6 linked regions of the Homo sapiens genome follow. The protein of the gene in region 1 purifies or fractionates together with the protein of each later gene. This does not show direct contact. Each region holds a gene or a part of one and is shown on either strand. Other genes may lie near its edges.

What was found.
Region 2: the proteins of SFXN5 (region 1) and ATP1A3 purify together in Homo sapiens (affinity purification with mass spectrometry; one large-scale study listed by BioGRID and IntAct). This does not show direct contact.
Region 3: the proteins of SFXN5 (region 1) and NPTN purify together in Homo sapiens (co-immunoprecipitation; one large-scale study listed by IntAct). This does not show direct contact.
Region 4: the proteins of SFXN5 (region 1) and RAB18 purify together in Homo sapiens (co-immunoprecipitation; one large-scale study listed by IntAct). This does not show direct contact.
Region 5: the proteins of SFXN5 (region 1) and PLXDC2 purify together in Homo sapiens (affinity purification with mass spectrometry; one large-scale study listed by BioGRID and IntAct). This does not show direct contact.
Region 6: the proteins of SFXN5 (region 1) and ALDH1L2 purify together in Homo sapiens (co-immunoprecipitation; one large-scale study listed by IntAct). This does not show direct contact.

What each region holds. Positions count from the first base shown.
Region 1 is NC_000002.12:72,998,713-73,002,212, reverse strand, and holds part of SFXN5 (sideroflexin-5), read left to right. Parts: intron 1-634; coding exon 635-688; intron 689-1,725; coding exon 1,726-1,782; intron 1,783-3,198; coding exon 3,199-3,264; intron 3,265-3,500. UniProt on the Homo sapiens protein: Mitochondrial amino-acid transporter. Transports citrate. Does not act as a serine transporter: not able to mediate transport of serine into mitochondria.
Region 2 is NC_000019.10:41,984,231-41,987,730, reverse strand, and holds part of ATP1A3 (sodium/potassium-transporting ATPase subunit alpha-3), read left to right. Parts: intron 1-1,501; coding exon 1,502-1,615; intron 1,616-1,732; coding exon 1,733-1,867; intron 1,868-2,307; coding exon 2,308-2,425; intron 2,426-2,544; coding exon 2,545-2,813; intron 2,814-3,500. UniProt on the Homo sapiens protein: This is the catalytic component of the active enzyme, which catalyzes the hydrolysis of ATP coupled with the exchange of sodium and potassium ions across the plasma membrane.
Region 3 is NC_000015.10:73,623,390-73,626,889, forward strand, and holds part of NPTN (neuroplastin isoform b precursor), read right to left. Parts: intron 1-3,500. UniProt on the Homo sapiens protein: Probable homophilic and heterophilic cell adhesion molecule involved in long term potentiation at hippocampal excitatory synapses through activation of p38MAPK. May also regulate neurite outgrowth by activating the FGFR1 signaling pathway.
Region 4 is NC_000010.11:27,524,804-27,528,303, reverse strand, and holds part of RAB18 (ras-related protein Rab-18), read right to left. Parts: intron 1,477-3,500; coding exon 1,415-1,476; intron 1-1,414. UniProt on the Homo sapiens protein: The small GTPases Rab are key regulators of intracellular membrane trafficking, from the formation of transport vesicles to their fusion with membranes.
Region 5 is NC_000010.11:20,211,432-20,214,931, forward strand, and holds part of PLXDC2 (plexin domain-containing protein 2 isoform 1 precursor), read left to right. Parts: intron 1-237; coding exon 238-298; intron 299-3,500. UniProt on the Homo sapiens protein: May play a role in tumor angiogenesis.
Region 6 is NC_000012.12:105,046,459-105,049,958, reverse strand, and holds part of ALDH1L2 (mitochondrial 10-formyltetrahydrofolate dehydrogenase precursor), read left to right. Parts: coding exon 1-51; intron 52-2,989; coding exon 2,990-3,060; intron 3,061-3,143; coding exon 3,144-3,249; intron 3,250-3,500. UniProt on the Homo sapiens protein: Mitochondrial 10-formyltetrahydrofolate dehydrogenase that catalyzes the NADP(+)-dependent conversion of 10-formyltetrahydrofolate to tetrahydrofolate and carbon dioxide.

The sequences.
Region 1 (3,500 bases):
AAATATTAGAAATCTATGTTTCATTCAGTTGCTTAAACCTGGTATAGGTTTTTGCTTCATGGAAATTCACAGATAACAGATACAAATTCCCCCAACTTGTATTTACAAAGCACTTAAGGCCTTTGAAATGATTTTTGTTTAATCCTCGCAAAAATCCTACGGGAAGGCTAGGGTGAGCAGTCAGGTAACCTGAGTGGAAACGAAGGTATTCCTTTTGTTTGCTTGTTTTTATTGCCCCCCTAATTGTGGAAATAATACATGTCTGTTGTTTAAAAGAATACAGAAATATTTAAGATTGTGCAAAAGTAATCTGCAACCCAACCTCCAGAGACATCCACACTACAGGTTTTTTCATGCTTGAAGATAATGTGTGTATGCATGTGTTTGTGTATATCGTTATATATAAAATGATTTTTCTTTAAATAAATAAGATTATGCTGTAATATAATTCTGCAACTTGGTTTTTTCCCATCACACAGCCTCTCCCTCAATGAACCTCAGTTTGTATGTACACGGCATACCACATCAGTTTGTACAGATCCAGCTCACTCATTTGTGGTAGCGTATTTTTTCTTTGCAAAAGCATAGGATGTTTCTTCTGCCTTTTTCAGCATTTCTTCTCTCTTGCTCATAGGTAGTCGGTCTTCTCTTGCCCAACCAGACACTGGCATCCACTGTCTTCTGGCAGGTAACAGTCTCGCAGCAAACAGGGCTCCTGAAGGAAGGGCCCACACAGGTGCTGGTTAAGAACTCCCTGCTGTGGTGTCTCCTGCCCCGTCCAGACCCCGTGTAGGGTCAGTCCACCCCAACACCACCCCTAGCCCAGAAGCCACTGAAGGAAAACCAGGACTTTGGCCCTGCTGAGCAGGTCTCCAGCAGCCCAGCATGTCTCAATCCACCATGTGTCACTCTAACCTTTGGACAGAGGTCATGAGGGCTGCGTGCCCCTGCCTGGAACATGCTGGCTTGTCAGTGGGGTGGCCCCCACTCTGCCCCTTGGCTGCTCATCCCAAGGCCAGTGACCCTGAGGCCCATAGCCTCATTTTGACATCAGCCTCCCCCACATCTGCTGAGGAAGCTAAATCCACCCCTAACCTGAGGTTGTGAAGTGCATCACAGACCCTGGTCCCTGCTCTTGGAGACAGTCTGGGTTGTGATGCCATGAAAACTGAGGATATCTCTGTGTTTGTGTGTGCAGAGAAAGACGGGCAGGAAGGAAAACCTGTCTGTCTTCTAGGAGAAAATGTCAGTCTTCCCTGAACTAAACTCCTGCCGGCCTCTGTGTCTGGGAACTGGAGGTGCAGGATACTGGACTGGGAGATTTTTGAAAGAATTGTAGGGCTGTCAGTCATTCTAGGCCAACTTTTGTCCAGCAGGTAATATAATAAAGATGGTGTGACAAAGGCAGTGGGGTCTGCAGGGGCAGTGAATGCCATCATTCCAAGAGAGGTGACTGTCTCAGGATCAGGTGGACTACTGGGGTGCGCAGGACCCCATTCAGGAACCGAGAGACTTCCCGAGAGGCAGGGCTTCCAGTGCTAACACCAGCACAGCCCTGGGCAAACCAGGACGGTCAGTCATGCTGACCGGCAGCATGGGCGGCACCATGTGAGCTGGAGACCGCATGCTGTGCCTTTCTGGGGATGTGTGGCCTCCTGGGGTCCAGGCCTGGCTTCCAGGGAGGTGACCACTCCTTCCCTGACTTCTCTCATCATTGCCTTTCAGTGGCTGAACCAGAGCCACAATGCCTGTGTCAACTATGCAAACCGCAATGCGACCAAGGTGAGCATCACTGCCCTCTCCCCAGTGGTGGGGTTCAGGCTAGGGAGGCCCAGTCATCCTCCCTACAGCGTGACATGCCACCATCAGTGGCTGCCTCTTGGTTAAGCATGGCCCTCCTCTAGATATCTTATTTAAAATGCCAGCCCTTCAGGTGGGTGGCCGACTCAGACATGACTCAGCTGAGGTCAGCTGCAGTTTCTGGGCCAGGAGCCCTCTGGGGAGGGGCTGTTTACATGAAGTGAAGAAGGCCCATTAAATGGGAGCAGTGCAAGGGATGAGTTCGGCTGGCTTTCAGATTCTTCTTGGGTAGCTCTTACATTTGGGTTTTGGATCATGATGGTATCAGCTACTTGGGGGCAAAATTCCCATAAAGCTTCCTCCAAAATTTCTGGAAGCTGCCTTAGCGCTCCCAGGTCCCGACTGCTGGCCACAAGCTGAAGGGCTGCTCCTGAGTGGGGAGGGTCCAGGGCTGGTAACTCCCCCCCAGAGCCCCTGCACTCCTTGGAGAGCTTGTGGTGGAGGCCCAGTCACCCTTCTGTTGTCCAGGAAGGGCTGCTGGGCCCCTGCTTTGCTGGCAAGGCCACCTCTCCCCAACTTCAATTCAAAGGCAAAGAAGGCAGGATGCATCTAAGTCCCCTTTGGGGGCCTGTCAGTTTGGGGTAGAGGAGAGTCCTAACATTTGCTCACCTTGGGGGAGAGGAGGGGAATAGGAGCTGGCCTGGGCCATAGGAATTGAGAGGCCTGATATGCTGTGGCTGCCCCCTGACATCTAAACCTCCACCCCAAGTCTCTCTCATAGGCTTCACATATGGCCATCTCTGCTTGGATGACTCCCTTTATCTTAAACCAGACACTTCTAGACCTGCAGTTGTAGCACAGGGCAAGTTCCTTAGCTTTTTCTTAATTGTCTGTGTTGGAACTTGGGGTATATTATTCTCTAGAGATATTGGGCAGCTATCATCTGTTGACATGGGAGCCCAGCTGTTCCATGGGCTGGCAAGGCCTGTGAGAGCCTTGACACTGGCATTTCCACCTAGAAAGCGCTCCAGATGCCAAATGGCCCCCTTGAAACATTTAGCCTCTAAACTGAAGACTGCTTGCCCCAGCCTTCAATGGTCCATGTTAGCCTTGCTGTTCTCCACCTCCACCCAGCACTGTCTGCCAGTGACCTTTCTAGAACAGGGCAGGAGTGAAGTGGGCCCTTCAGTATCTCCCTGGATACTGGTGATTTATATTTCTGCATTGGGAACTGAGCTGAGGGTGGCCTGATCCCTTTGAGTCCTGAGGGGCCTCTTCCTTCTACCCACTTTCCAGGCTGGTGGGCAGGATGCTTCTTGCTGGCTGGGACAGCTTACAAGGGGAAGTATGGGAGCTTTGGGCACCCAGCAGGCCTGAAATTCTGCCTCTGTTTTCCAGCCTTCACCTGCATCCAAGTTCATCCAGGGATACCTGGGAGCTGTCATCAGCGCCGTCTCCATTGCTGTGAGTACTCCCTCCCCTGCTCCTTCTTGGCTCTGCTGCTCTGGGGCCACCCCGCTCAGCATTGCAGGTGGATGCTTGTCTGAGGGCCAGGCCAGGCAAGGATTTGGGAGACAGGTTTCTGTGGGTGGAGGAGTCAGGACAGGCTTTCCAAGCCGAGAAGAGGCTCCAGTAGACAGAGCACAACCTGGTGCTCCCTGTAATGGAGAGCAGGTGGGGAGGTGAGGTTGTGCCTGGGG
Region 2 (3,500 bases), on another chromosome or scaffold:
CAGCAGGATGTGTGAGCCGGGGCTCTGTCCCAAGGCTGTGTGACCTCAGCGGCCTTGAGAACAGACACCAGCAGGTGGTCATGGCTTGACAGATACCCAGAGTGAGTGTCACATAGAGACCCAGGCACACCCCGCTGCTGATACATCAGGGCCCATCCCCATAACACAGGGACACATTCGAGATGCAGCCTCAGATCCCATGCGCATAACACAGACCACACACCAGCCACACAGAGCTGCTCACCTGGGTAGGCGTGTGTGCACACACACGCATGTGCACGGAGGGTCAACGCAGATGCCACACCAGGATGTGGTTTCAAACATGGCCACCTAATTCAGAAACACAGACACAGACTCAGATATACACTGACAGAGAAACTCACACACACACTGACACGCACACACACACACAGCAATGCAGGCATAACCTGGTGACAGAGAGACATGAGAGTCAGGCACAGAGAGTGTCCTCAGATGTTCAAATCTAAACAGTCTTAGACATAAGCTCTCACAGAGAGGCAGAGCTGGAGACACAGAGACAGAGATCCACACACAGAGAACCAAAGAAGCTGCCTTGTAGAATGTAAAGTCAGGCATGCAGCCAGTCAGACAGACACATGGACAGACAGCCGCATCCCAGACTCAACATGTGCAGGAGGACAGACACACACACAAAACAGATGGACAAGTCGGGCATGGTGGCTCACGCCTGTCATCCCAGCACCTTGGGAGGCCAAGGCAGGAGGGTAACTTGAGACCAGGAGTTCCAGTAGCCTGAGTAACATACCCAGACAGACCCAGCCTCTAAAAAAACACAAAACATAGCCGGGCCTGGTGGCGCACACCTGTAGTCCTAGCTACTCCGGAGGCTGAGGAGGGAGGATTGCTTGAATCTGGGAGGTTGAGGCTACAGTGAACTGAGATTGTGCCACTGTACTCCATCCTAGGCAGCAGAGCGAGACCCTGTCTCAAAAAAAAAAAAAAAAAAAAATGCCAGGAAAGATGGCTCACACCTGTAATCCCAGCACTTTGGGAGGCCAAGGTGATAGATCACAAGGTCAGGAGATCAAGACCATCCTAGCCAACATGGTGAAGCCCCATCTCTACTAAAAATACACAAAATTAGCCAGGTGTGGTGGCATGCACCTGTAGTCCCAGCTACTCAGGAGGCTGAGGCAGGAGGATCGCTTGAACCAGGAGGCGGAGATTGCAGTGAGCCAAGATCATGCCATTGCACTCCAGCCTGGGCGACAGAGTGAGACTCTGTCTCAAAAAAAAAATCGACAGACCCTTAGATTCAAACACAACCATTACAGAAAGAGGGACTCAAGCACAAACAGGGGAGACTCAGACACACCAACCCTCATAACCAACCTAGGGTCAGACACACAAATACAGACCCCCACTGACACAAAGCTCCCTTCCCAGACTCCAGGCGAGCAGGGACTGGTGGAGAGTGGCTTGGGCGGCCCCTGATCAACATCCCCACATCTCCCCACAGCTGTACCTGGGCATCGTGCTGGCGGCCGTGGTGATCATCACTGGCTGCTTCTCCTACTACCAGGAGGCCAAGAGCTCCAAGATCATGGAGTCCTTCAAGAACATGGTGCCCCAGGTGAAGGGTGCCCAGCAAGGGGCCAGACGGGGGTGTTAGTGTATGGGCTGGGGGCCGGGCCCAGTGACCCCCAGGCAGAGGGAGTCTGGGAGGTGACATTACTCCATCCCACCTCAGCAAGCCCTGGTGATCCGGGAAGGTGAGAAGATGCAGGTGAACGCTGAGGAGGTGGTGGTCGGGGACCTGGTGGAGATCAAGGGTGGAGACCGAGTGCCAGCTGACCTGCGGATCATCTCAGCCCACGGCTGCAAGGTGGGCCTGGGCCTAGGGCCCGGCTTTACCCTCCCTCGGGCTGCCCAGGAGCTCAGGCCCAGCCCCTCCTCCCTCACACTCAGGAGTCCAGGTCCCAACCCCTCCTCCCTCAGACCCAGGAGTCCAGGCCCCCAGGCCCTCCTCCCTCAGACCCAGGAGTTTAGGCCCTGGGCCACCTCCTCACCCAACAGTCAGGAGTCCAGGCCCAGCCCTCACCTTTCGGAGATCCTTAGGGACCCTAGACCTTGGCCAGCAGCACTGTGCCTTCCCCACCTTCAAGATCCCAGCCTCTGGCCTCCCACACACCACTCACCCACTGGGCACCCAGGCTTCTAGCTGTGATCTCCAGGCACACAGGCTTCAGCCCCAAGCCCTGTACACAAATACCCTCCTGTCCCAGGCCCTGGACTGAACCCTCTCTCTGCTGCACCTACCCCCAGGTGGACAACTCCTCCCTGACTGGCGAATCCGAGCCCCAGACTCGCTCTCCCGACTGCACTCACGACAACCCCTTGGAGACTCGGAACATCACCTTCTTTTCCACCAACTGTGTGGAAGGTGAGGCGGGTGCAGAGAAGACACACAGCTGGGGCAGACACAGGGATGTGTCCCAGGGGGTCAGGCCTCCAGAACCTCCCTGAGCCACCCCACCTCAGCCTAACCCCTCTGGCCTGCAGGCACGGCTCGGGGCGTGGTGGTGGCCACGGGCGACCGCACTGTCATGGGCCGTATCGCCACCCTGGCATCAGGGCTGGAGGTGGGCAAGACGCCCATCGCCATCGAGATTGAGCACTTCATCCAGCTCATCACCGGCGTGGCTGTCTTCCTGGGTGTCTCCTTCTTCATCCTCTCCCTCATTCTCGGATACACCTGGCTTGAGGCTGTCATCTTCCTCATCGGCATCATCGTGGCCAATGTCCCAGAGGGTCTGCTGGCCACTGTCACTGTAAGGCCAGGCTCCTGGGTCTGGGTGGGGAGGGCCTGGGGGTCTGGGCTCCTGGGTCTGAGGGAGGAGGGGCTGGGATCCTGGACCCCTGAGTCTGAGGGAGGAGGGGCTAGAGGCCTGGACCCGTGTGTCTGGGGGAGGAGGGGCTGGGATCTGGACCCCTGGGTCCGGAGAAGGGGCTGGGGGCCTGGATCACAGTATTCTTGTGAAAGACAACTTGGGCCTGACTCAGAGGGCCTCATTAACAAAGCAAACAATCAAAGAAAGAAACAAACAAAAATCTTGAGAAACACTGGCAAGCCGTAAAGAGCCAACAATCCTATTGCAAAATTAAGAAGTGCACGCTCATGATGAAAAGTTGAAGAGTACATCAAGTTAAAAAATAAAATAATGAGGCTGGGTGCACTGGCTCACGCTGTAATCCCAGCACTTTGGGGGGCCAAGGCGGGCAGATCAGCTGAGGTCAGGAGTTCAAGACTAGCCTGGCCAACATGGTGAAACCCTGTCTCTACTGAAAATACAAAATTAGTGGGGCGTGGTGGCACATGCCTGTAATCCCAGCTACTCAGGAGGCTGAGGCAGGAGAATCGCTTGAACCTGGGAGGCGGAGGTTGCAGTGAGCCAAGATCACGCCATTGCACTCCAGCCTGGGTGACAAGAGTGAAACTCCATCTCAAAAATAAATAA
Region 3 (3,500 bases), on another chromosome or scaffold:
AAAAACTTCTGGCTGGCAGGGGGGCTGTGGCTCATGCCTGTAATCCCAGCACTTTGGGAGGCACAGGCAGGAGGATCACTTTAGTCCAGGAGTTTGAGACCAGCCTGGGCAACATAGGGAGACCTCATCTCCACAAAAAATTCAAAAATTAGCCAGGCATGGAGGTATGCGCCTGTGGTCCCAGCTACTTGGAAAGCTGAGGCAGGAGGATCACCTGAGCCTGGAAGGTTGATGCTGCAGTGAGTAATGATCACGCCACTGCATTCCAGCCTAGGCAACAGAGTGAGACCCTGTTTCAAAACAAAACAAACAACAGAAAAACACACTAACTTTTGAAAAGTCCATTTCATTTCATATTCATTTCCATATTTTTCTCTCATTGAGCTTCTAAACAAGCACAGTACTATGTAAGAAAGAGATCATTTCTGTTTTTGAGTACCCTCTCAACCAGCTCTTTGTCCTACTTATAATGGTTCTGACGATGAGTGCAAATAACTCTATTCTTCCGCTAGTTTCATTAAAATCATCTTAATACTAAACCTATGCTTTCTTCCCTGTGCTCTAGGCCATTGCTCTTTGATACAGCCCATCCATCTTTGGAGACTGCCTAATTCCCTTACTTCATTTACACTGCTACCTTGAAAGTATTAATAGATAATCACATCCCCCTAGTGCTCCCTGTTCCTAAGTTTAGCTCCTTCAGGCTTTTCTCCTAAATCTTAAGCTACCATCAACATAGATTCTATGTCTCTTCCAAAATGTGGTTAGAAAGTATTCTTATTTGGAGTTCAATCCTAGTAGAAAACAGTAATGCTGTTAGGTTAGCACCATACTTTTGATACGTGATCACTATGTTATTTGTGTAAGGGTAATTCAATGACAGTTCACTGCAAGCTATTTGAAACCTCTTTATACTTGCTTTTTTCCAGGTAGCAGTTTCCTGGTTTGCATTAAGGCCATTTATTTCATCTCCCTTGATGCACGATTTGAGATTCAGCATTAATGAATATAATTTCAATGCTGGAGCTCCTTGTGCTATTTTTTTCCAGTTGTTCGGCAATGATTCCCAAACCTGCTAAACTCGTATAATCAAAAAAATCCCAAGTTAAATTTAACACATTCCTTCAATCTATGAATTTAGAAGTTTTTCACAGATAGTTGCCAACAAAGGAGGACATCTTGTTGCCTTTTTTTCCTCCAGGAAGCAGTGTCTAAAAACTAGGAAATAATCCCACTACTCTAGGATCTTAAACATGAACGGCAGATGATTCTTTAGTGATGGTTCTGCTTACCCTCTCTCTCTCTTCCCTTGGCCAGTATTCAAGTCAATCTGTACTCAACAGAAATGTGCCTCAGACTACAGCAACCAAGTAAAGCATTTGGCTTAGAATAAACATTAGTACTCCCAGCCCTGCAAACTCAAAGGCTCAGGAATAAGGAACACAAGGTCTAATTTAAAAGGAAGGTCAACTGAATATACTGGAAAAGTTATGTCTTGATTATATTCAAATTACTGTGGCTTCCCCTTTTTCTAAAGTTCTAAAAGGAAAAAAAATCGCTATATATAATGGCTAATGTATAAATCCAAAATGTTTTATTTTCTTTACTCATAATGACTAATAACAGTATATGCTGATATTACTGATAAATGTCTAGTGAAAATCCTTGTGTTAACAAAAATCATAATTATTCCAGACTAACATGGCATGTAAAAAATAAACAAAAGCCCCAAACTACTCCATACCTGAAAATGCTGTTTTTCAAACTGAGTTTCACGGCCCATGAATTGTGAATTCAATTTAGAAGGTCACTATGGTTCTCTTAACTACCTCACACAGATTAATAATAGGTAATGTTTCACAAGATATTACATATTTGTGTAATTTTGTTATAAATTTCTATTAGTCAAAAACTACTTCTCTATCTGGGTCACAGACAAAAAAGTTTGAAAGCCTTTTTCTAAAGAGCTTTTTTTTTTTGAGACGGAGTCTGGCCCTGTCACCCAGGCTGGAGTGCAGTGGCATGTTCTCGGCTCCCGGGTTCACGCCATTCTCCTGCCTCAGCCCCGAGTAGCTGGGACTACAGGTGCCGGCGACCACCCCTGGCTGATTTTTTGTATTTTTGGTAGAGATGGGGTTTCACCGTGTTAGCCAGGATGGTCTCGATCTCCTGACCTCGTGATCCGCCCACCGCAGCCTCCCAAAGTGCTGGGATTACAGGAGTGAGCCACCGCGTCCGGCCAAGAGCTTTATTTTTCAAGTAATTTCAACATGATTACATGTGAACCAAATATTATCTTTTACTCATATAAACTAACCCCTACTGACTACATTTCAGGTCCTAGAAAATTCTAGTTTGCAATGTAATTTTTAGGTTATTTTTAAATTAATAAGTAGCAAGGGTGTAGCTGAAACTAGATGATGAATACACAGGGGTTTATTCATTACTTAATCTATTTTTGTACATGTTTGAAATTCTAAAGATCTAAAAGAAAAAAAGGAAAAGAAATGGACCTAACAGATAACAAAGTAGTACCATGAATGTTTACAACTTGAGACCTTTAAACACAATGTTTCTAAGGAATAACAATCAAGGAACTTGCTAGGATTTAATTCAGTTAACACTTGGGGTTGCCTTCTTCGACTATAATGGACGGATTTCCAGGTCTTAAAAAATGCATAAGGGACTGCAGAAACTAACTCATATATAGAAAACAAACTTTCTCGAAAGATAACATAAAAATACAAATAGTTAAGTGTGTTTCATTGTCTCTTTATTAGTCAACCACTTTCAGCCAACAGAAAGATCATAAAATACCTACCTACCTGGCAGGAATATTCACTTCTTTATTCACACTGGCAATTTTCCCAGCAAGTTTAATATAAGATCTCTGCATAACAGACACGGTTCTGCCTCCCTTGAAACAAGAACTGCAAGGGTTGTCTGAAGTAGATTTAGAGGCATTTAGATTTCAAAACAGTGCATGCCTCAAAGTTAATTTTCATTATATTCAAAAGTAAGTTTCTAAAAACTTTTAAACAGAAAGTGTTATCATCTCTGAGCCTTTAACCTATTGGAGACAGTATCTAAGCTATAAGGGCAAGATATTTAGTAATTTTTAGAACTGAAAGGAAATTTAGACATCATCTAGTCCAATGGTTTCCAAATCCTACCATCAGGAAGAAAAGAATCTCAAAGGCATAACAATTTATATATGCAAAACAAACTCTTACTTGTGTGTTTTCCTGTATCTTCCTGCACATGAAATACTATGCCTTATTAGTATTCTATCAGGAAAGGATGTGACATTTCGTTATGCATTTTATATTTAATCACATTTAGTATGTGAGTATCCATTTAGATATGATTAAAACTATTGGTACGATTTGGGACTTAATGCTTTCTAATTATAGAAACTTACATAATATATCCAACCCTAATACTTTCAGAGTGATTTCATACCATCTCATTTATATTTCACTGTCTAGTAAATTTGAAGT
Region 4 (3,500 bases), on another chromosome or scaffold:
ATGTTTATAGGCCTATGGTAAAAATGTCTCTTCAATAATACCTGCCAGCCTTTTTATTAGGCAGGAACTAGAAAATAAATTTAAAACAAAACGAAACTATGAGAGAAAAATCTCACTGCAACCAGCAAGTCTCAGATACTACTCTAATCTACGGATTTCACAAAGCAGCAGCAAGGCCGGAAAGGGATAATAAATTAACCATGAAAAGCATATGGAAATCAGGCCCCCACTTTAGTATGGAAAAAGCCAACATTCTTATATCGTTCAACACATTTTACCATACTCTAGTCCAACATTTTCCAAATTGTTTTCTGTTAGACATTACCGTTCTGATTGATATTAAACATATTTGGGGGAAAGGGGCAAACAGGTTAACAAATTTAAAGTATTGTATGTTAGGAAAAACTGACATAAAAACATTAAACACACTTACACAATTATTTGTTATTTGGGGATAAATGTGTATTAGAAACAGTGTGCCATTCAGAGAATGCCAAGAAATATGACATCATACAATGCATGAACACTTGCTGTTTTCAATCTGTGACTGATGTACAAACAGCATTTACCATTTAACCACCATGTGGAAATAAGTCTCGATTTGATGACTGATCAGTTCTAATATGATTTCTTATATTACAAACATATATGTATAATTATCACAGTCTATGTGAAAAATAGATATATAAAACAGTATATATTTAGAATATACATATATATATATAACCGATCATATTTAGATAGACAGATATAGATAGATCGGTATGTGGGTGGGTAAATAGACTGATGAAAGGGAGACACAGAGAGAGACAAACATAGACACTAAGCATCTTGGATATTTTTGACAGTTAATGCTACCTTATTTGACACTAGCATGAGCGGTCTAGCTAGTACAGTAACGGGGATCAGAATGGTTGGATTGACAGGAAAACGAAAAGAAGCCAGTAAGGAAAAACGAGGCATTAAAAATAAGCCCAAAGTTTGAAACCTCAAATTTTATAAATATCTATACTAACAAACAAGAAAAATAAAATTTTTTCCTAAATATCACGTCATTCCTCCTCCCCTTAAAAATTGTCTTTAGTGTTAGTTCAGTCTAGATGGTCTTTTTAAAACTTCAAAGAAACATATCCAATTATGATTCTCTTTGGCAGATGAGATGATTTTTTAATATTCTGTTCTGTTTTGAAATATTCATAAAGAATTATGCATTGTGAAAATTTAAACAAAACATAGCTGCCTAATTACCCAATTATAAGACATTACTGTTTATCCTTTAATCAGTATCAAATCTCCCAAAAGTTATTTAATACAAATTGTTCATTCACCACCTCTAGAACACTACACAAATCAATTTCTGCATCCTTAAAAAGTAAAGTTTAATATTTTAAAAATACATTTTAAAAACTCTTACCCATATTGCAAGTTTAGCCTTATTTCCATCCACTGAAATTGTTTTCACCTTAAAGTCAACACCTTAAAGAAATGAAAATTTTGATAAGTCTCCCAGTAAAACAGACTTTTAAAATCCATTACCAAGAAAACCAGAAAACAGAAAAGTCACTATTATCAAATGCCCAATTCACACCCCAACTTCTTAGAATTCTGGATGTGGAGATAAAAAGTGTCATTAAAATCCAGGATCTTAGGATTTAATCAGGATAAATGAAAATCAAATGCTTGTAGAATTCACTCACTCACCTACCTTCTATTCTTCCAAAAAGGAAAAACGAAATTCAATTTAAGGTGATAACTCACTATGCGTGTTAAAAGTCAAGAGCTGCAATTACAATGCTCACATAAAGAAGACTATCCATGGCTGACTGTGGGTCATGGCAGCTTCCAGGGGCTCCCTAAGCATCCACATGCTACTGTTAAGAGTGCTGTCCACTGCCAGCCAACCACTAACTCAGATCTTGACTGTAAGCAGCTTGGGGAACCGGTAAAAATATTAAAGGGCCACTCACTCCTTGTCATATAATCTCTTTATTTTTATCCTAAAAAAATACTATTTTTATGTAATAACCTAATCAATAACTTGCTACAGCACAATTTCAATAAAACAATTTATACATGAAAACATTTATATACAACCATCTAAGAATCTTCATAAGTGAAAGAGGAGTGCCCAAAGTTCTATGAAAAGCTTCTATAAGTACTAATTTATGTAAAGAAAAGAGTTTCATAAGAAGTCCACAAGGCTTTATTACAGCAGCCAAAAAAGAAACCTCTCCCTTTCCAGGAAAAGGAGTTGACACATGCCATCTGGCTTAAATGAACAGCAACTGCCCACATGTCTTTCAAGAGTTCAGTCTACCCCACTGGCCAGAGGGAAAACATTAGCTCAAGAAGCTTGGAAAGAAACTTTCAAAATATCTTATTAGCTTGTCACAATTAATTCAGAACAGCCCCAACTAAGATGAACAGCACCCTCACATACTAAATGCTTAATAGAACACCTGTCACCAATATGGAAATATATTTGTAATTCTTGGAAGACTTGTGGTGATCCATTACATATACAAATTCAGTAATAAAAATGCACATTCAAAATGTGCATTATGCCAGGTCTTTCTGTATACCAAATATATATATTTTTAAGTTTGGTGTTTTGAGCTGGGGTGATAAAGGAGTTGATAAAGCCTAGAATGATGGGCAACCATTAGTAAAAGGACAGTGTTGATTACATAGCCCAACAAAAACCTAAATATAAAATTTCTTCACAGCCAAACAAACAAAAAATCCCACATGCTAAATAATCTTGTATTAACCAGGTCTAAATAAAGAAGTTACTATGCCATTTTAAAAGTGGAACCATCTACATAAACAACATGAAATTATCTACATTTTCTTCCTATTGCTTTAAAAAAAAAAAAGCAAAGCACAAACCCTGAGAAAATTCAGAGGAGGAAAATGGTTCTGACTTGGTGCAGGTACTAAATGACAGCCACTGGCAGACACTACACAGAGATAGCCTCTGTCATGCACACTCTACAGTTAAATTCTCAAGGTTTTTCAGGGAGTATATAAAGAACTAATTTTTTTCCTTAATAATCCCAGATACATGTTCAAGAGCAGACAAGCATCTTTCCTATGAGCTAATTTGTTTACCCAAGAAAAGAAACCCACCGCTTCCAGAATGTATGTGTTTTCTTCCCATACCCCAACTCCTCTTTCTCTATTATTATTTCCTGGTTCTGCAAGTTTGTTGTGAACAGTCTAATGACTGTCTCTGACATAAGAATAATTTGCATGTGGATAACTAACAATGTCTCTAAGTTATGCTTTTGACATATTATATCTGAAACTTACCAATACCCATCCACAGGAGACACTGAACACTGTCGTCCTGCCATCAAAGCCAACAGACACAGGTAGCCTGAAGGGGCACCTAATCTAAATCCAGACCCCTAAAGTCCCCAGTCATCTTCCCTAGGTTCCTCTGGTGAATCTCACATGCAGCAATTGAGCTCTTCAGATCTCACATGCTAAAACTGCTT
Region 5 (3,500 bases), on another chromosome or scaffold:
AGTGATTTGGTTGCCATGTGCGATCCTAACAGTGACATCCTAAGGAATGAGTGATTATTTAGCAACCCTCTAAATATTTCCCTGCTTCTCCAGTTGCGAGTTCTATAGAAGAGTTAATGTTATGCTAAACTGAAAATGTGAGAATGAACTACCTACTAATCTTTTACTTTTAATTTCTGTCCACCACCCTGCACCCTATCCTTCCTTTTCTGAACTGCATTGTGGTCTTCTTTGAAGATGTTCCAGTGGATTTGATCGTCATCGGCAGGACTGGGTGGACAGTGGATGCCCTGAAGAGGTACACATGCTTTATTGTGACAGAATCCTGGGACCAAGCTGTCATATACATGTGTTTTAACTGTTAATAATTTTTATTCAAAATTTATGCCCTAAAACTTAATGAAAGGAGAAGAATCCTTCTATAAGCCCAATGTCTGCAAATATTAGGGGTTCGATAACAGCTGGCTATTTTTGTTAAATTAGATAACATTTTCATTACATTGTAGCAACTTGCTACAACCCCTAATAGATGCAGACATGGGGCTTAACTATTTATATGTATTATCTCATTTCATTGTCATATTCATTCTATGAAGAACAGTGCCTGCACTGTCACTACCCCCATATTACCAAGGAGAGAAAGGGGAGGAGTGAGGGGAGCTTGTGGGGAGGGGTGAAGTGTGGGTTCTTGGAGAGTCAGGTAAATGGCTAGGGAATAGTAGGGCCAGGATTGGAATCTGTAGAGGAGTTCTCTTAAATGCTTGCTATTTTTCTAGGATGTACGAAACCATTGTTCCTCTTTGTAATTCAAACAGCAAGACCAGTGGTATTGTGGAGGGTGGAAGACTGCAGCAAATTGATGTGCTGTAATAAATGAGAAATTGTATAACATTAGTTGGCATAGAGAGATGGTATAATGTTAACTCTGAGGGAAACATGATAGAGACAAGGATGCAGTGAAGTCGTGTAAGCAATTGGATACCAGAAACAATTTTAACCCGTTTAAAAGCTTTGCAGTGACTCGCATTTATACTATCATTTCAAGATCATATAAAGATATCCTATAAAGTTTATGAAGAAAAGCATTTACTTCTTCTCCCTTCATTAAGTTTTGGGGTATCAATTTTGAATTAAAACTGCTAACAATTACAAAAGTTTAGCAAAGCAAGCCATGCCAAAATGCTGTTTTAAAAACTATTTGTTCAATGGTTACTTAGAGACTTTTTAAAAATTCATTTTTGGGGGGCATGTTTCATAAAGATCTTGAGCAATACATTTTTAAAAACATTCTTGAACTTTAAATGCAGTATTGCCAGTGTAGCTATAACCAACCTTTTGGCATTTCATTTAGGGAATGACAGCAGTGTGTGCTCATCCGTCTCACCTCACTTATCTAATAACGTAGTTCCAAAGAGTATCTATTGACAAAGCCATAGTTGTGTTTTGAGACAATCATTTCTTTCATATAATCAGTTACCTCAATATAAAATGTTGAAAATGAATATCTCCATATATGTAAAGATTGAGAATGTAATTCAGATGTATATTTTTTCTCCCAAATTTGGTTTATCTTTTCATTTTCTCTATGATTTTATTTCACTAACATTAATTATCAATTTAATCTGTCAAATGTATGAATCTTTTATTTTTATGATGAGTTTTATATGCCTGTGCATCTTCTTTTAGAAGAATTTTCCTACCAAATTCCATCTAGGTGTTATTTTTGTGTATTTTTTTCTGAATATTTTAAAGCTTTGTCTTACACGTCAAAATCTATTCCATTTGGAATTGGTTTTTATGTATTATATAAGGTAGAGATTCAGTTTCGTGGGGTTTTTTTTCTTGATGGATAGCCAAATTTCAAGCACCATTTGTTAACTAATCCTTTCTTTTGGCAATATCTTGCAAAGTCACCTGTTTTATGTATATTTTCTGGGCTCTCCTCTTCTAAAGCTCTGTCAGTACTTAGATCAGTGTCCCACTGTATTAATTTCTATTGTTTTATAAGAAATCTTACTATATACAGGACAAATCTCCTTACTTTTTCTTCTTCACAAGTGTTTGGGTATTTTAGGGCTTTTGTCCTTCATATAAATATTAAACTCACCTTGTCGAGATCTGTAATCCATCTATCAATACATCTTACTAACATTTTATTGGAAATACATTAAATTATGAATTAGATCACATTTCCTAATTACAGAGGCTTTTAAAATTTACCTTTTTTACTATTGACTTCTAGACTAATTGAGTCATCATCAGAGAACATGTTATGATCTTTAAAGTTGATTGGAAATTTTTCATGAACAAGTACATGGGCATTTTGTACAAAGGGTCTATGTGTGTTCAAGAAAAATGTGTGTTTTCCTGTTGGTTGGGTGTCAAGCTTGATAAATGTACTCTTCAGCTATACTTCTCCACTCTCTTTATTTTCACCTTCTGACTTCTTTGAAAGCTTGCCATTTTCATCTTTTCCTCATATTTTTAAACCTCTATTATATGTAATCTCTTTCCTTATTACTCTGTGCTGTATTTGGAGCAATTTCTTCAGATGTATTTACCGGTTTATTAACTCTCCCTTCATCTTGTTTAATATTCTATGTAATCTACTCACTGAAGTAGAAATTCCAACAAACATTTTTCATATCTAAAATTAAATTTGACACTTATTACATCTGCCAAGTATTTTATAGTTTCATGTGAACCGTTCATTTCTCAATTTTATCTTTTATGATTTTAAATATTCCGTGTATGATTTTTGTATATTCCATATTGGATGATCCCATTATCTAAAATTTTGGTGATCTAAATAGTGTGGTCATTGTTTTTGCTGATTCTTTCTCAGACAGCTATTTTTTTTTCTTTTTTAGTGTATATTTGTCTGATCCTATTCTAAGACCTAAATAGGTGATGTTTTCCCCCAAAGAAGATTTGATGATGGGATCCTCAGGATTTTCAGGCTACCATAAGTCTCTGCCCTAATGTGAGGAGGAGAAGTTCAGATTTTTCTCCCCTGTCTACTACTGCTGCAAGGCTTGTTCTCTTTAGAGCGATATTGATTTTGGATTTTTTTCCTCAGGGCAAATTCTGCTTTTTTAACTTCCCTTAATGTATACAGCTCCTACTGTCTTTATAGCACATAGCTTTTGCTTTGTTTTATTTTTTGAGTGGGGAGGGGAATAAACAATGGAAAGGCACCATTGGGATATTCTTTACCTCCTGCAAATCCTAAGGCTTTAAAATTCAAGTTTTATTCAGAATCTACTTGTTTTGTTATAGGAGGGCTATTTAGTTCCTTAGTCTGCCGTTACTGCCAAAAGCAATCTGAGCCTAGGATTTTACCTTAAACGTAGGGTGTTTACTGAACATTATTAGATCCTGTTTACGGAATACTAGGTCCTGTTCATTGACAGTAGAAACACAAAGAGAGAATAATATATGGCAAGTTCCATTCTATACTCCTTGAGTTTGAGATGTGTGTGACATTCACATGCAGACAC
Region 6 (3,500 bases), on another chromosome or scaffold:
ATGTCTGTGCAAACATTCAGATATTTTGCTGGCTGGTGCGACAAAATTCAGGTAAGCACAAATATTATTTGTTCTGAAAGAAAAAGGGACTAACATTGATTAGTTTGTACCAGGCACTGTGTCAGATCCTCTTTTTATGTAGATTTTTTTACACCAACATAACAGGGTTGTCTCAATCCATTTTATGCTGCTGTAACAGAATACCTGAGACTAGGTAATTTATAAAGAACAGAAATTTATTCTCTTACAGTTCTGGAGGCCGGGAAGTCTAAGATAAAGGTGTCAGCAGGTTTGGCCTCTAGTTTTAAGATGGTGCCTTGTAGTGCATCCTCTGGAGCAGAGGAACGGTGTGTCCTCACCTGGCAGAAGAGTAGAAGAGAGTGAATCCACTCCTGCAAGCCCTTTTTATAGCGGCATTGATCCATTCATTAAGGTGGAGCCCTCACGACCTAAACACCTCCTATTAGGCCCTACCCCCCAACACCGTGGCATTAGGGGTTAAGTTTCCAGCACATGCATTTTAGGAGACACTTTCAGACCCTCGCAATGGTTATAACAACTACGGGAAGTAAATGGATAGCTCTTATCCCCTTATTACATGTGAGCAAACAAAGGCTTGAGGACATGGATGCCTTTCCTATAATTTGTAGCAAGTAACCCATACGACCAGATTTGAAGTCAAGATTTTCCGAATCTAAAGTCTAATGATCTTCTTTGCATTTTACTATAATATCTCCTGAGGGTGTTGAATAGTTTTCTAGACACTTTGGAGAAGCCTAGTATCATGTAGGGTTTACAAATTCAAATACCTACAGAGGCCAGAGAGCTACCGTAGATGGTGGAAGCAGACTGAGTATAAGAAAAACTTTGTCTTTGAATATGTGTCCTAGGAGAAATAAATTAAAAAAAAATTTTTTTTTCTTTCTTTTGAGATGGAGTCTTGCTCTGTCGCCCAGGCTGGAGTGCAGTGGCGCCATCTCAGCTCACTACAACCTCGCCTCCTGGGTTCAAGCAATTCTCCTGCCTCAGCCTCCCTAGTAGCTGGGATTACAGGTGTGCACCACCACGCCTGGCTAATTTTTGTATTTTTAGCAGAGACGGGGTTTCACCATGTTGGCCAGGCTGGTCTCGAACTCCTGACCTCAAGTAATTCACCTGCCTTGGCCTCCCAAAGTGCTGGGATTACAGGCATGAGCCACTGCGCCTGGCCAAAAAAAAATTTTTTTAAAGAAAAACTTTGATAAAGATACAGGAATAATAAATAAATATTTCATTTTACTGTATGATAATAAATAGCAAACACAGGGTGATCAACGGCAACAACACTAGCTCCAGCACTGGGGATACAAAAGGGAGATGTAGGGCTTGTAGCAAACTGCAGTATGCATGTTCCTCATAGACTCATAATAACCACTGCAGTACCAGTCATTGCAACCACATTCCCAGCAGCAAAAAGAAGGAAGTGAGAAAGGGGGAGTGGTAAGAGGAATTTAACAAAGCATTCTTACCTTCCCAGTACCTTTTGCTCATATCCCTCCTTGGCCATCTCTATCTGCTAAGGAGACTGGGAAACATCATATTTCATCTGCATACATTGCTGCCACCAATGTTAATGTACAGTCAGACAGACCTGAGTCAAGTCTCAGCTCTGGCCCTTATCAGCCGATGTTGTTAAAGTTATTTTCTCTCTCAGAACCTTACTTTCCTCCTCTATAAAATGGTCACAGTAATACATACTTTGCAAGTTATGTTTTGAGGATTGGAAACGAGTATTTGTACACTACAGGATTAGACAAGTCTGCAACATAGCAGGTTTGCACAAAAATGAAATTTTTATTGTGGTTCAGCCACAAAGTCATGCATATATTGATATTTACTAATGGTAGTTCAGGTCCATCTGTTATCCCCAATTATGAAACCCAAATAGTTCTGAAACCTGAAAATTGTTTGATTGGTTCAAACTCGTTTGATGCCAAACCCTGACCTAAATGAACATAATCTATTAATAATATTTATTTACATCACTTAGAGTGAATATTCAAATGTTTCAGTGAATAAATACTAGCATGTTTGATTATGGGAGGCTTACCCAAATCCTGCTGGGGTAGTAGATAATATAAGGTATATGCACTATATTACACTTCTAAAGTCCAAAAAATTCTGAATTCCAAAACATAACTGGCTACAAGTGTTTTAAGAAATTGTACACCCTATTAGTAGTAGCAATAATATTTTATGTGGCAAAGCAAATGAATAGCTTTCATTAAAGGCTACTATTGTGATTCCGTTAGGATTAAGTTGGCTGCATATAACAGCCAACTTATTCCTGTTTTTTTAATCCTATTATTTTTCTCTCACTTTCAAGGAGTCCAGAGACAGGCAGTTAGGACTAGTATGTGAGATGCAAACTCTTTTTCTGTCTTTGCCAGGCCATGTGACCTCCACCCTGAAGGTTGACTCATGGTCTCAAGAAAACCACTGCAGTGCCAGCCATTTCAGCAACAGTCTAAACAGGAAGAAGGAGGAAGCAGACATGGAGGGAAGAATAAAAGAGTAGAGTTAGCCTAGTTTAAGTAGCATTCCCCTTCCAATGCCTTGTGCTTGTATCTTCCACTGACCATCCCTAATCTGGAGAATGGGAACCATAGTATTTGATCTGGGCATATTCCTGTCCCCATTATTAATATAGGGATTCTGTTACTAAGGACAGAGGGGAGAGTGGATAATAGGCAGGCAGTTCACATTCTCTGCCAGGCCAAGCAATTAGGAATGGACTAAATTAGAATTATGTTTATTCTTCTGTGTTTCATGGTTCTCTTGAGAAACAAATAGCTGTTCCTTCTTTGGCATGAATATAGTTCTTATCAACAAACGCTCTTTTCATATCAGCTAACAAAAAGTAAGAGAGGAAGACAGAAAATGGATCCTTTGAGATGAAATTTACTTATTTAAATTAGTAAAATAAGTATCAACTTTTCTCATTCTTTAGGGTTCTACTATTCCAATCAACCAGGCCCGTCCAAATCGCAATCTGACCTTCACCAAGAAAGAGCCACTCGGGTAAGATAAGGAGAGTGCCTCTGAGTGAATCATGAGTTGTGTTATTTGAAACAACTAAGCATGTCGAATTTCTTCCCCTGCAGTGTCTGTGCCATTATTATTCCCTGGAACTACCCGCTGATGATGCTGGCATGGAAGAGTGCTGCGTGTTTGGCAGCAGGCAATACCTTAGTGCTCAAGCCAGCACAGGTAAGGCCACAAAGGGCCAGGTGCAGAATTGCCTCCTCTCTTATATCCAGTACTTCAAAAAAGTGAAATATATTTATAAATAGCAAACAAAAATGAGATGGTATGGCATTTTTCTCATATATCATGGACAACTTTTCATGTCAGTAAATATTCATTTTTAATAGCTACCTAATACATTGTATGGAGATTCCACAATTTAAAATTTTCATAATAATAGAAGCAAGCATGGTGCACATCAGTGAAGTCCAATG